Regions from separate parts of the Homo sapiens genome. Here all the other regions are linked to region 3. Evidence: fine-mapped expression QTL. A gene starts in region 3. Each other region holds a variant in brackets. All regions are shown on one strand. Distances are between the middles of the regions.

The links. PIP is the estimated chance that this variant, and not a neighbour inherited with it, causes the effect.
Region 1: its variant is the best candidate, but not a certain one, in a credible set for the expression of ASPH in whole blood (GTEx, PIP 0.70).
Region 2: its variant is the best candidate, but not a certain one, in a credible set for the expression of ASPH in whole blood (INTERVAL, PIP 0.69).

The regions. Positions count from the first base shown.
Region 1 is chr8:61,761,224-61,766,456 of GRCh38, forward strand. No RefSeq gene overlaps it. Among named protein-coding and RNA genes, the nearest start is that of LINC02842, 21 kb to the right of the region's middle. The variant A/G (reference allele first, on the strand shown) is at 2,937.
Region 2 is chr8:61,472,331-61,477,563 of GRCh38, forward strand. All of the region lies in intron 5 of CLVS1 (clavesin 1), which reads left to right. Among named protein-coding and RNA genes, the nearest start is that of CLVS1, 190 kb to the left of the region's middle. The variant A/G (reference allele first, on the strand shown) is at 2,713.
Region 3 is chr8:61,711,611-61,716,843 of GRCh38, forward strand. It overlaps ASPH (aspartate beta-hydroxylase), which reads right to left and starts at 2,982. Exons shown (of 25, transcript NM_004318.4): 1 at 2,659-2,982. The coding sequence starts at 2,761. MIR4470 (microRNA 4470) reads left to right here and starts at 3,178; the gene lies at 3,178-3,249. RefSeq lists silencers at 2,352-2,781, 2,822-3,191.

The sequences.
Region 1 (5,233 bases), 50 kb after region 3:
CAAATAGAATGGAACTCACTGCATTCTTTTCCAGCTCTTTTGGGTGATGTAGGACAAGGCTGCAGGAACTCAGCTTTTCCAGAAGTAGAGCATGGAGCCATATTAGCTGGAGGGTTGCTGAATGGTTCCAGGTTCAAACATCAGCATAGCAAAGTCATTATGAGCACAAACTCCTGTGACTTACTCAGCTGTGTGACTCAGGGCAAGCAACATAATATTGCTGTAGCTTGGTTCATTCTTTTTTACAGTGGTAGATACAATAAAGTAATACGCATCTCACAGGGTCGAGTGGGTGCTAAAAGAGTTAGTAGATATCAGGCACTCCAGAGGTTGCTTTATACAGCAGGCACTCAACCTTTGTTTATTACTATCATGTTGCTCCACCAGAGAGTCACAGATTTCATCTCTGGGGTCACTTGATCCCTTTGCTGTCTGCAACTTTTGTAGCTTGGGAGGAGCTTCCTTGACAAGATAAGGAATTTATTTATTCCTCCAGCCAGTGGGATTTCCGACTGTCCGGGGAGGTGGTTTGGAACTAAGACTTAACATGAAGAGAAAATACTGATATATTCCATGGAGACGATCTATTTTCCATTTCAACTTGGAAGACTAACACTTGACTGTCTCACCAGTGGAGGCAGCAAGAGGGTGCATAATACAAAGTTTCTGTAAGCCTTGTAATCTCTGACCACTTGGTACAATGAGAAGGACTGTAATATATTGGATGCTACCAGTTTTTACTTTATGGGGAAAGTTTTTCTTCTATTTTTACAGAATAGTCATGACTTTTACACTTTGCACCTTCAGAAATCTCTAAGTCAGAAAATAAGCATTCTCTGCATCCTGTTCTTTTCTTGACTTTACACTATTACTGAATTTTCATTTCAATAGTTTAATAGTAGCAGCTAACATTGACCCTTTATCATGTGCCAGGGACTAAGTGTTACACAGTTAAGTTCTCATTTAATGTCCTAGATAGTTTCTTGGAAACTTTGGCTATAAGCAACATGACATATAATGAAACCAATTTTCCCACAGGCTAATTGATATAAACAAGAGTTAAGTTTCTATAACATCACGAAGACCTCACCAATCTTCAAAATAAAGACCCCCTAAACACTTCTAATACTAAAGCTAAAATAAATGTGAGCTATACATACATTTAAGAAACGTTAATAAAAACAAGGAAGATAATTACCCAATTATTGCAGTTCAGGGTCACGGGTGGCCAGAGCCTATTCTGACAGCTCAGAGTGCAAAGAGGGACCTAACCCTGGCCAGGAGGCCATCCTATTGCAGGGCCCAGTCATATAACAAAACCACGTTGAACAAATGGCACTGTTCCAAGACCTGCTGCATATTGAATTTCTCATTCAACCCTCCCAATGAGCCTGAAGGAGGCCATATAGCATAGCAATTCACTGTGACATCTCCAGAGTTTACCAGGGGCCAAGTCATGGCTTGCCCACTTACTTGTCTCCTGATGGGAAATTTATTTAGCCTCTATGTTTCTCTGTTTTTGTTTCCTCATCTAGCAAAAGGGCTTGAGTGTATTTTTTCATTGGGCTATTGTAAAGGATTAAATAAAATATTGCAAACAGTGTTTGAAACTGTCAATACATATGTTATGATGAAAACAGTGTCAGAAATAGGTCAACAAATACATGACATAATTAGGCAGATGAAAGAACTGAGACTAAGTATAGGTGATTCAGTGGCTCCAGGCACACAGCTAGTAAACTAAGGAGCTGGGATTTGAAAACGGCTGTACACCGCCAAAGCCCATACTTGTGACCTCTATATCATTGTATGTTATGAAAACCAAAACTAATGAAGTTTTCATTCATGTGCTAAATAATACTGTGATCAGGCAAAAACAACGTAGCTACTTACTCCTGGAAATAAGGCTCCTGAAAGACAAGACAGTGAACCGATTCAAACTCCTTATTCATCAATAGCCTTTAAGGACCCTCTCCTCACTACAGCTACCCATTCAAAAATATTATGACATACATTTCCCAATCCCAACTAGAGTCTTGCTTTGCAGAAAATCATCCAACTCAGAGTTGCCCTCCAAATGCTATTAATATTCTCCCCTGACTTCTCCCTTCTGATTCACTACTAAAGCTGTCAAAGAAGTCTTTTCCCTTACTGCAGCAAGCCTAACCAACTTAGCTTTGTTTGAGCAGCAGATTTTTCTGGTGATATTTTGGGAAGTCAGTACTCAACAATACTTAAACTACCACTGAGATTCACTAAATTCCCCCTTGCTGCTGAGGCTCAAGACTCCTCACTCAGGAGAGGGTGCTACCTTGGGGCCTCTGAGCCTTCCACTCAGAAATCTCTCCAACCGTAAGATAGGTAGGGCCCTGATTATGTCTGATCTCCTGATTTCTTATTTGCTCTTGCTTGAGTTGATTTTCAAATAAATTCATTTTTTCTCCTAGGAATGAGGAATCATTTTAAGTATCCTTCCTTTAGATAATTAAATTTGAAAATTATTATTCATGGTGAAAACCTGCCTAAATACCAACACTTCCTCCCTGTTTCCTGCTGTCCACACTCCTCCCTTTCTCCTGTGAGTCTGCAGGAGGAAGTCTAGAGAGAGGGACCACACGGGCTCTCGAAGTCCGTCTTTCAGACCACTCCAAGACTGACGAGTTCAGTCTCATGAGACTGATAATTTTTTGACAAACTTTGGCTTGGGATACTGTTCAAAAACTTGTAAGAAATTTCCATTGTCTTGTCTTTGCATCCCTGAGAAATATTTTATTTAGTTTCTTCTGCCCACTGTTGGGGGTTTCCTTGGGCCTCTTATCAGTGATGACTGCTCTGTGGCCATATGCTAGAGATAAGAAGTGGTACAAGACCCATTCTTACTGTCTGCTGTAGTTCTCATGGGCTCTACTCAATGTGTTTGGCCCTCTGGGACAAAC[A/G]CCTGCTCCCTTAAAGCTTTCATTTAAGTGCATGTCTCTGTCATGACTCCACCATGGTCAAACTGAAATTGCAATGATCACTTTGAGAAAATTGTAACATAAACATGATTGTCTATTAGAGATACACATTAGAACAAAAAAGAAAAGAAACCTTCAGGAGGTGATTCTGCCTTGTCTAAGAGAGAGATGACCTTGAAATAGGAGACCCCTTCTTTTCTTCTTGTACTGTGCACATGTGTGACTGTTTTTATGTATGTGAATATGTATGTGCATGTGCATGTGTGTGTAAGAGTGTATGTGTGCAAGTATGTATGAGTGTGAGTACATGTGGATGTGTACATGAGAGAGAAATGGTTTTTCTTGTGTCTAGGCTTTTCCTTTCCTTGCAGAAAGAAGGGTAAGTAGCCTTTTTACAGAGATGATTTTATATTAGAAGCCAGTTCCCTCTCATTTCTTCTTTTCTTTCCTTCCGTTTTTAACTTCTCTCAGAAAACTTTGGAGATTGATAGATTATAAATTATTGATATATCTCATAGAGGTTTACTTCTACTAAGAAAAGAACTATTTTACCAAATATGAGTAATTAAATTTTAGCTTACAAAGGCTCTACATGTTTTTCTCTGATCTTATTACTATGTAAAAAACGTTCACCTAGTATTTAGTTAAGACAAGATTTGAATATAATTTCTCATGATTAAAATTTGAAAATATTCTATGTTAGTTCTATGGCCCCAATAATGTGTTATTATATCTGCAACTTATATAAAGTTAAGAAATATAAAATTGTATTTAGTCCAATAAAATTGTAAATGTGAGTGTCTTTTAGATATTTAATATTGTGAATACTTATTTAACAGATCATAAGGGCTTAATGTGTTGGTAAACTTTGTAATTTCTGGATCTTTGGTTAGCTTTAAGACCTTAGACTAATATAAAATTAAGCTAATTAATAAAAGGTATATGTATACCACAACTATTTCTAAATAAAAATAAAATGTTTAAATATCATTCAAGAAACATTATTTTGGGTTTTACTCATTTCCAATCTTTACAAAATACTACAGACTAATAGGGCATTTGAATGCCTTTGAATTATATATATATCTGAATGTGTTTATCTCAAGTTTATTAAAATGCAGTATAAAATGTGTACTCATGGAAAAAATCTAAGTAGATATTGCTTCTAGTTTCCTTGTGGCCAGGAAAACAAAAGTTGATTAGTTAAAGGTGGTAATTAATATAAATGTTTGAGATGACACTAAGTACTATAATTACAGAGTAAGACAAATGAGTATACAAGATGATAATATATTTTGTCTGTTTTCTTCTTAAAGGAATTATTATAATTTATTAAAATGGAAAATCCCATTAGGCAAATACTATATATTTTAAAATTTAGCATGCTGACAGTTAACTGCATTTTAGAGCTAAACTTAATAATTTTATTATCTGTTTGCTTAGTTATATATTCATGTATGTTTAAATGCATAAATACAAGAATATCTTTATATTACTTTTAAAAGTGAATAAATAATGAATAAGATAATGAAAGACAAAATTGAGGACACTCTGTGAATATAAGAGACCTAAAGAAAATGATGTTACGGGTTTCTAATACCAAAGATGACGTAATAATCTCCTAATGGCCTCCCCTCCTAATGCCCCCACATTGGGGGTTAAGATTTCAGCATATACATTTTTGTCTAATACAAACATTCAGTCTGTAACAACCTCTAAGGCATTTCATCTGTCATTCATAGACGGCTCTGCTGCAGTGTCTTTGGGCATGGAAAGGCCGTTGAAGTTGTTTATTCTCATCTCCCTGGCACTTCATTGTTAGAAAATTAGAACTTGGAAGCTCAGAGAGGTGACGTGATTAGCCTAAGGTCACAAAGCTATTTCATAAGAAGGATAGGGCTAAAACTGTTTAGTCACTTTATACTCTTACCACTGAGTTCCTTTGACATTGGAGGGGAGAAAATTTTACTCATAAAACTCAGTCTTGGTGAACATTGAAAATAATACTTTTAGAGGGAAAGGGCCTTTAAATCAGGCTTATTACACTGTTTGTGGTCAAGTAATATAGGAAGGAAGTAGGTTTTTTTAGATGTCTGAAAATTTAGTGGTGATCAGCTATAATATAGATACATTGAGATTTTACTTTCTAACATTCTACCTTCATGTCTTCAACTTTTATAAACCCAATAAAATAAATGAACAATGGAGGCTACCCATTTAAGCTGGGTTTTTTTCAACCCCATTTGAAATTTAAGCTGGGTTTTCTTCAACCCCATTTG
Region 2 (5,233 bases), 240 kb before region 3:
CTGGAGAGGGGAGGGAAGGAAAGAAGGTAAAAAAGACATGGGGGGAGGAGAAGGAGGGAAACAAAAAAGAGAGAGGAAGGAAACAACAAAAGAAGGAGAGAAGAAAGGAAAAATCGTGTAACAGTAAATGCTGTGAGGAACACTCTATTTTGTAGAGTGATGAGGAAGATATCATCAACCATCCATAAAGGAATAAGACATGGTCTTTGTAATCAATGTTTCATTAGAATTTGAAATTGTCTCTAAGGTTATCAGTAACCAACTCCTTAGTCTCATTACTTCTCCCAGTTTTTGAATTTCCATTAACAATTAACATTTAAAATAATTTTTAAAAATTTTATTCATTCATTCAATAATCATTGAGTATACATTATACACAAGTAGGATAGAGGGCAATTAAGAGAACAGAATCAGTAATCAGATTTTATGCGTTCAAATTAATAGCTGTGTGACCTGAGTAGCTACCTCTCTGTGGCCTACTTTTCCTCTCTAGAAAGGAGATAATAATAGATCTACCTTATTATTGTGCTGTGAGGATTAAAGGAAGTCAGTGCAGGTGTTATCTGCTGAAGACAGAGTGGTTAACCTGGCGGACACTGCCCCTGCAGTGTCTCTGAGTCTGTGGTCTATGAAGGGGGACAGACTTTAAACACATTACCCATACAAACAGCTGTTTCATGGTCACCATAAGTGCTTTGAAAAGTTAAAGTGTACCATGAGGATACAGGTGTGTAACGAGGAGGATCCTAACCTAGTCTTGGGTGGAATTCTGGAAGCACTTTCCTGAGGAAGTCACATATAAGCTGAAAACTGGAATATGAGAAAAGTACCCCAAGCAAAAAGGGAGGCATGGGGGTGGGATTCAGAGCAAACACCCTGCATTTGGAAGGACCAGTGTCAGGAACTACTGTGTTTTACTGATTAATTATAAGATGCATTTTCCATCACATTAAAAATCCCTGAAATGAAGACATGTCCTACAATTGATGACATCTGAAATTCACGGAATTTAAAAAAAAAAAAAAAAAAAAAAAGACCAGAAACATTGGAGAGCAGAAAGCGAGGGGGAAAATGACGGGGGTGATGCACAGGGGCCCACCGTGCAGAGCTGCATAGGGCAGATATGAATATCGGACTTTGTCCTATAAGCAATGGACAGTTTCAGAAAAGTTTTTGCAAATGAGTGCAATGAATAGATAAGTTTATTAAAATTTTCACTCTGTTGTGAGGAGAACAAATTGGAGGTGGAGAGAGTAGTAAAAGAAGGCTGTATGAGACTACAGTAATGGTGCATGTAGGAGATCATTGTAGCCTGGATTGGAGTGCTGAGCGTGGAGGTACAGAGAAGAAGATGACTCAAAAATGTTTAGTGAATAGAATAAACAAGATCTGATGATCAAGTGGATATTGGGATGAAGGTAAGATGCTTCAGGAATGACCAGAGGTCTTTTGCATATGTAAAAGATGCAATGCTGCTGAATGGAAAGCAGACCCTTTTCCCAAGATAAGGAACTCTGGAAGCAGTGCTGACTGGGGAGATGATTGTGAATTCAGTGTTGGACATGATTAATGAGAGGGCTTGTGTGGTATCTGGTTAGAGTAGTCATGTAGGCTGTTTAGAACATGTTTCTCCTGTTCTAAAGCTCAGGAGAAAATTCTGGAGTGGGAAAAATCAGGAACTCAAAGGCATAAAGAGGCAAATGCAAGCCATGGGAATGGAGGAGAACTCTCAGAGAGAGCTTGTAGAAAGAAAAGAAGAATGAGTGCCTAGGTTTGAGCTGAGAGGAAGTTCAGTATTTGAATGTCATACAGCGCAAGACACCATTCTCCAACATGGAGAATGGTAGGAGGTAAACTAGATGTGGTGTTGCAGAAGCCAAAGGAACAGAAAGGATTTCAGGAAGGGTGGAGTCATCAACTCTATTTACTGCTTCTGAGAAGCCAAGTAAGGTGAAGATTTAAAGGTATCCATTGGACATAATGACTTGAAAGTCATAGGAAGCCTTCACAAGAGCTGTGGTGGAGTCACATGGGTGGTTATGAAGATGCAGCGGGCTCAGAAGTAGGTAGGATGTGAGCAGAGGGAGAGATGGGGAAGATATTTGTATCTGGAGAGGCATGTAAAGATCCAGAAGGCTTTTTTGTTGTTTTTCTATTTTCTTCTATTTTCTGACTTTGTCTTCCTCTTCATCTTCTTCTTCTTTTGTTGAAAATGGGAACACTAGGATATCTCAATGCTAATAGCAAAGATCCAGTAAAGAGGGAGAATTGGAAGGTGTAGGAGAGGGAACAATTGATAACACCAAGCAGGTGAGATTGGTTAGGACCCCGAGCCTGAGTGGAGGAAGTTGTTGCTTTTCTAAGAGCAAGAAGCTCTCTTTACAGTAATCAGGCACCTGTGCATGTGGCACCCCAAAGCTGAGAAGTTCCCGAGGACTCTATTTTCCCAGTGAAGCAGGGCAAGTCTTTTTTTTTATATATATACTTTAAGTTTTATTGTACATATGCACAACGTGCAGGTTTGTTACATATGTATACATGTGCCATGTTGGTGTGCTGCACCCGTTAACTCGTCATTTAGCATTAGGTATATCTCCTAATGCTATCCCTCCCCACTGCCCTCACCCCACAACAGGCCCCAGTGTGTGATGTTCCCCTTCCTGTGTCCATGTGTTCTCATTGTTCAATTCCCACCTATGAGTGAGAACATGC[A/G]GGGTTTGGTTTTTTGTCCTTGTGATACTTTGCTGAGAATGATGGTTTCCAGCTTCATCCATGTCCCTACAAAGGACATGAACTCATCATTTTTTATGGCTGCATAGTATTCCATGGTGTATATGTGCCACATTTTCTTAATCCAGTCTATCATTGCTGGACATTTGGGTTGGTTCCAAGTCTTTGCTATTGTGAATAGTGCCGCAATAAACATGCGTGTGCATGTGTCTTTATAGCAGCATGATTTATATACTTTGGGTATATACCCAGTAATGGGATGGCTGGGTCAAATGGTATTTCTAGTTCTAGATCCCTGAGGAATCGCCACACCAGCTTCCACAATGGTTGAACTAGTTTAGAGTCCCACCAACAGTGTAAAAGTCTTCCTATTTCTCCACACCCTCTCCAGCACCTGTTGTTTCCTGACTTTTTAATGATCGCCATTCTAACTGGTGTGAGATGGTATCTCATTGTGGTTTTGATTTACATTTCTCTGACAGTCAGTGATGATGAGCATTTTTTCATGTGTTTTTTGGCTGCATAAATGTCTTCTTTTGAGAAGTGTCTGTTCATATCCTTTGTCCACTTTTTGATGGGGTTGTTTGTTTTTTTCTTGTAAATTTGTTTGAGTTCATTGTAGATTCTGGATATTAGCCCTTTGTCAGATGAGTAGGTTGCAAAACTTTTCTCCCATTCTGTAGGTTGCCTGTTCACTCTGATGGTAGTTTCTTTTGCTGTGCAGAAGCTCTTTAGTTTAATTAGATACCATTTGTCAATTTTGTCTTTTGTTGCCATTGCTTTTGGTGTTTTAGTCAAGAAGTCCTTGCCCATGTGTATGTCCTGAATAGTATTGCCTAGGTTTTCTTCTAGGGTTTTTATGGTTTTAGGTCTACCATTTAAGTCTTTAATCCATCTTGAATTAATTTTTGTATAAGGTGTAAGGAAGGGATCCAGTTTCAGCTTTCTACATATGGCTAGCCAGTTTTCCCAGCACCATTTATTAAATAGGGAATCTTTTCCCCATTGCTTGTTTTTCTCAGGTTTGTCAAAGATCAGATAGTTGTAGATATGTGACATTATTTCTGAGGGCTCTGTTCTGTTCCATTGATCTATATCTCTGTTTTGGTACCAGGACCATGCTGATTTGGTTACTGTAGCCTTGTAGCATAGTTTGAAGTCAGGTAGCGTGATGCCTCCAACTTTGTTCTTTTGGCTTAGGATTGACTTGGCAATGTGGGCTCTTTTTGGGTTCCATATGAACTTTAAAGTAGTTTTTTCCAATTCTGTGAAGAAAGTCATTGGTAGCTTGATGGGGATGGCGTTGAATCTGTAAATTACCTTGGGCAGTATGGCCATTTTCATGATATTGATTCTTCCTACCCATGAGCATGGAATGTTCTTCCATTTGTTTGTATCCTCTTTTATTTCATTGAGCAGTGGTTTGTAGTTCTCCTTGAATAAGTCCTTCACATCCCTTGTAAGTTGGATTCCTAGGTATTTTATTCTCTTTGAAGCAATTGTGAATGGGAGTTCACTCATGATTTGGCTCTCTGTTTGTCTATTATTGGTATATAAGAATGCTTGTGATTTTTGCACATTGACTTTGTATCCTGAGACTTTGCTGAAGTTGCTTATCAACTTAAGGAGATTTTGGGCTGAGACGATGGGGTTTTCTAGATATACAATCATGTCATCTTCAAACAGGGACAATTTGACTTCTTCTTTTCCTAATTGAATACCCTTTATTTTCTTCTCCTGCCTGATTGCCCTGGCCAGAACCTCCAACACTATGTTGAATAGGAGTGGTGGGAGACGGCATCCCTGTCTTGTGCCAGTTTTCAAAGGGAATGCTTCCAGTTTTTGTCCATTGAGTATGATATTGGCTGTGGGTGTGTCATAGATAGCTCTTATTATTTTGAGATACATCCCATCAATACCTAATTTATTGAGAGTTTCTAGCATGAAGGTTGTTGAATTTTATCAAAGGCCTTTTCTGCATCTATTGAGATAATCATGTGGTTTTTGTCTTTGGTTCTGTTTATATGATGGATTACGTTTATTGATTTTTGTATGTTGAACCAGCCTTGCATCCCACGGATGAAGCACACTTGATCATGGTGGATAAGCTTTTTGATGTGCTGCTGGATTCGGTTTTCCAGTATTTTATTGAGGACTTTTGCAACGATGTTCATCAAGGATATTGGTCTAAAATTCTCTTTTTTTTTGTTGTGTCTCTGCCAGGCTTTGGTATCAGGATGATGTTGGCTTCATAAAATGAGTTAGGGAGGATTCCTTCTTTTCCTATTGATTGGAATAGTTTCAGAAGGAATGGTACCAGCTCCTCCTTGTACCTCTGGTAGAATTGACCTGTGAATCCATCTGGTCCTGGACTTCTTTTGGTTGCTATGCTATTAATTATTGCCTCAATTCAGAGCCTGTTATTGGTCTATACAGAGATTCAACTTCTTCCTGGTTTAGTCTTGGGAGGGTGTATGTGTCCAGAAATTTATCCATTTCTTCT
Region 3 (5,233 bases):
ATCACTTTTCAGCAAAAAAACCACCAAGATAAAGTTTGGCCAGGAAAAAAAAAAGAAATCACCTTTTCCCTAAAATGCATGTTTCAAATGACTGGGTTCTTTTTTCCCCATACGTTTACACAACAACTTAAGAAATAATAATGTTTAATGTGACCAATGCCGTCATTTTCTGACTCTCAATGTAAGACATATCAAAAAACGTACTATTTGAACACATATACTTCTTCTCAAACTAAAATTTCAAATAGTGTTTCAAATAGAATTTTTGTCAAGGGAAATGTAATTGGTGATAGGACAAAAGCATAGTTTTCTCCAATAATTAAATGTAGTACTCATGGAGACAGCCAGAAGAAAACTTGATAATCTAGTTCAACTCCAATTACATACTAGAGAACCTAAAATTCAAGCATGGCAAAATGAATAACAAAACCTGGGTTCTTAGTCTCGGTTCTTCCAGTAATTAGTTGAGTTTCCATGAACTAAACAACCTTCAATGAACTCGGCAACTTCTCTGGGCATTAATTTCCTCATCTGTATGATTTGAGCAGGAAACTAAATGGGTCTCACAGTATGACACTGCTAAAAAGTCTTTGATTTTCCCAGTAGAAGGAAATGGTTCGCACAACGTCCGTACTTTAATGACCAGGTAAACAGCATTAAAAGAAAAGCCGGCTTTATCTTTCGAGTACAGCCTACTATACACGACACTGTACTTTAACTGTTTAGGGTGATGGAAGGAAATGGTTTCCATACCCAGTGCCTTCTATCTGGCACACAGTAAGAACTCAGTATCTACTGGAGAAAAAAAAGAAAAGGTTGCGGATATGCGGATAAAGAATACTCATTACGTCACATGCAGGGTTCCAATATCAACTTTTGTTTTCGTATCACGGGCATTCCTCCCTTTTACATATTCTTTTACATACTATGTCTGTTTCATGACTATTAGAGAATCAACGTGTAAAATGCTTAAAAGGCTGTAGATCCTCAAATATGGGCAGAGTTTGTTCTAAAATGCCTGACTATGAAAGTCAGGAGAAGTTAATTTAAGTTACTGCATTTTCTAAACCTATCTCTTGCCTGTTAAAATGCTTCAAATAGTTATGGGGTAGGTCTAGAAACGTGAGACACATTTCCCAGTATTAGTTCTCACCAATAAGAGGCCATATAAAGTGACTTCCCTCAGATGCAATCAGCCCTCTCCTCATAAACACAAAAATGAAATGGAACGAAGACATGCTTCTCTGGCAAATAGCTACAGAAACCTTTTGAAAACAACTAACATTAAAGTTGTTCATCAGCTTTCTCTGCTTAGTGCCCTTAGAGGCACAATGAGAAGAACCCATTCTCATTTAGGGATGTTAAAAAAGAGTAGCCTCAGTCGGCTGAGGCAATTAATCTATCCCTCTGCAGGTTTAAGTAAGTGACATTTAAGAACAAGTGAAAAAGGAACACAAACTTTCACTTATGTCAAAGGTGAATTAATATGCTTGCATTGAACTTCAAACTGTGTCTACATCTTTACTTTTAGAATACAAATATTAGTCCTTAGAATGTAAATTTGTGCAATGGATTTAATGCACTACTTTCCCCATTTAAATCCATTCATTCATTCACTACTCAAATATTTATTGAGCACCTATTATGGGAAAGGAACATTCTAGGAGCTGGGGATACAGAGAGAATGAGCCAAAGACAACACACATGAAAGTAATAAGACAAGTTCAGATAGTGACAAGTGCTATAAAGAAAATACTTCTTTGACTATAGCTGATTCATTTTCTTGGTATATTATGAATGCATGATCTGAAGATCTCAGAAAACAAAGAGTCTAAATCACTTCAAGTGAAGTTTACAGCTCACATTCCATACACATGTGTATTGCAGTTTCAATATCCCAAATATGAGTCAAAGGAAGTATAAAAGAAACCAAGAATCACTGAAATATGAGACGAAACAGATTTAAAAATCTGTTCTCTCTGCTGGATATGCACACGGACGAGGAGAAAGGTGAATATCCAATCGATTTTTATTTTAAGTAAAAGTGGTAAAAATACAGACGCTCGTTCAGTATTTCATGACATTCTATTTTAAAGGCAACTGCAACGCATATTAAGAAAGCTACATACAAGCAAAAATATTTAAAATAATTTCTGAGAGCATTCAAATCACTCCCAACTTCTTCCCTCCCCCTGCCCCCCGGCGCCCCCATTTTCACCTCCTTTGAGTTGCTCTGAAACGCTGCTGGTTAGGCAGGAACTCACTTTCCCTGACTTTGGCTCATTTTCAACTCCCCAAAACACGCAAGGCAAACGATAAATTGTTCTCTTACTCCCATGTTCAATTCCACGGAAAGCCAAGAAACAGTCGTTCAGCAACCTCTGTCTCGGCTGCGCCCTGCAGGTGAAGGAACCGCTGGGAAGGGGCTCCCCGAGACTAGCATCCCGAGGGCTCGGACCCCGGTCCGCCTGGCCCCTCGCCCGCCCGCCAGGCCCGCCGAATGCGGCCTCCGCCCCGCGCGCCTAAAGGAGGAGCGTCGCGGGGGATGGAGGCGGCGCGCGGTGGGACCTGGGGAGATGCACCCGCAGCGTCCGCCGCGCCAGCCGGCTCCCTACCCCGAGGCGAGGCCCCAGATCCCCGCCCCGCAGGGCCTCTGACCTCTCCGGGCCCCGGGGCTGCTGCTGCCCGCACTCGTGCTACCGCTGCCGGAGCCGCTGCTGCTGCTGTTGCCGCTGCTCTTGGCATTCTTACGCTGGGCCATTGCACGGTCCGCGGGGGCTGGTGAGGGCTGGCGGACCTCCTTCAGTGCGCGGGGGTACACACGCGACGCGGGAACCGCTGGCGGCGGCGGGCCGCTGGAGCGGGTTCGGGCCGCTGCTCCTGCAGCAGACCCTGTGCCTCAGCACCGCCTGCAGCACCTGGGAAGACTTCACCCGCCTGCCGGCTGCGCGCGCCCGGCCTCGCGTGTACGAACCTGTGACTCCCTCCCGGGGCGAGAGCGCGCGGCTCGCCGCCCGACGGCCACGCCCCTTCCCGGCCTCGCCCCGCCCCCGGAAGGCTGAGTGACGGCGCCTGGGACCCAATCGCAAGGGCCCTTACGAGGCGGCGGTACCCTGCCGCGCTCCCCGCCCCTGCTCACTTAGGGCTGTTCGGGCGCTACGCAGCTGCCTGTGAGCGCGAGCCTCTTTCGGCTTTCCAGTTTGTCTCGGTCCTTTGGAACGTGGCAAACGTGGAAGCCGAGAGGGCTCTCGCGAGCGTTGGCAGACCCCGCTCCATAGGGATGGGACAGGGCGCGGTGCGGAATAGGTGGACACGTGGGCCGCCCGTGGGCGGAGTGCGCCGCTTCTAGGCCTTTCACTGTGGATTTTGTCCCCTTTCCGTATACAAGGAAAGGAAGGAGTGCAGTCTCGCTTCTTGCGAAAGAGATCCCTATTTCTTGTCCTGATTAATACTAAGACATTTCTGGAATGGTGATATTAGGACTAGTTCAATGCTTAAACCGTAGTAGTTCATCCATTTGGTGCTGAAGCAGGAATTTAGTTCGTTTGTGCCATCAGTATTTTCAGATACTCTTAGTTAAGGAATGAAAATGCAAATGTGACACAAAAAGTTCATTTTCTTACCCTGGATGGCACCCTCTGTCTGAAATCCCTGGCTGCTTTGCTAACGCCTGGGCCTGTGCTGCCTGAGAATTCCCAACAGAGTATTAAAATGTCTTGGCACGTGGTTGAACCAGACAAGGACTTGAGATCAGCGACGTCTTTATCATCTTTGTGTCACCATTGCTAACACCATGCCCAATGTGTAACAGGCAAGCAAGAAATGCTTAGTGATTTGATACATTTCTGTCAATTGCTGAACCCACAGCTCTTGATCATGTTTCGTAGCAACCCCTGGGAGTGTCTCAGGAGGGCTCAGGGACCAGAGAGAGCAGTTGCATTGTGGCATCTGGTTTCATTCCTCTTTTCCAGCCCCACAAACCCACCCACCCGCGCCTTCAGAAGCACTCCCGCCTCCCCCCGGCCCCATGCCTTTTCACCTGTGGATGGTTGGATGCTGCTTGACCCTGCCCTGATGATGCACAGAAACCCCCCAAAGGTCATGTTGCAGAATAAAGAGAATGCCTTTCTTTACCTTTTGTCAAATAGTGTTAGGCTATTATCAAGAGACGGTGGGAGGGGAGAGTTCACAGAGTTTTTATTGAAGTAGCTCTCTCAGCTTTTATCTTGTGGCATCTCCTTCTGCATCCATATATCCTTTCTCCCATTCAGGGCCCCCTTACAACCCTCTATTATATTATCTCAATGAAGGAGGTGGAGAACTGGATTAAGAAATAAATCTGAGTGATGGTGCTTCATATAAAATAAAAATGAGAGCTAAATTTCAAAACACAATGCTCTAGCCACCCCCCACCCCCCACACCAAAGATATTTTTACCCTTAAATTCTCACAAAACCCTGTAGTCATATCAATTTTTTAAAGAAATTAGATACTGGAAGCTCAGAGAGATAAAACAAAGTAGGGTCACTGTATTAGTCCGTTTTCACACTGCAGATAAAGACATATCCCAGACTGGAAAGAAAAAGGGGTTTAATTGGAGTTACAGTTCCACATGGCTGGGGAGGCCTCAGAATCATGGCAGGAGGTGAAAGGCACTTCTTACATGGAGGTGGCAAGAGAAAATGAGGAAGAAGTAAAAGCAGAAACCCCCAATAAACCCATTAGGTTTCATGAGAATTAATTCACTATCACGAGAATAGCACAGGAAAGACCGGCCCCCATGATTCAATTACCTCCCTCTGGGTTCTTCCCAAAACACATGGGAATTCTGAGAGATACAATTTGATGTTGAGATTTGAATGGGATCACAGCCAAACTATATCATTCTGCCCCAGTCCCTCCAAATTTCATGCCCTCACATTTCAGAACCAATCATGTTTTCCCAACAGTCCCCCAAAGCCTTAACTCATTTCAGCATTAACCCAAAAGTCCACAGTCCAAAGTCTCATCTGAGACAAGGCAAGTCCCTTCTACCTAAGAGCCTGTAAAATCAAAAGTAAGCTAGTTACTTCTTAGATACAATGAGGGTACAGGTATTGGGTAAATACAGCCATTTCAAATGGGAGAAATTGGCCAAAACAGCGGGGTTACAGGGCCCATGCAAGTCTGAATTCGAGTGGGGCAGTCAAATTTTAAAGCTCCAGAATTATCTCCTTTGACTCCAGGTCTCATA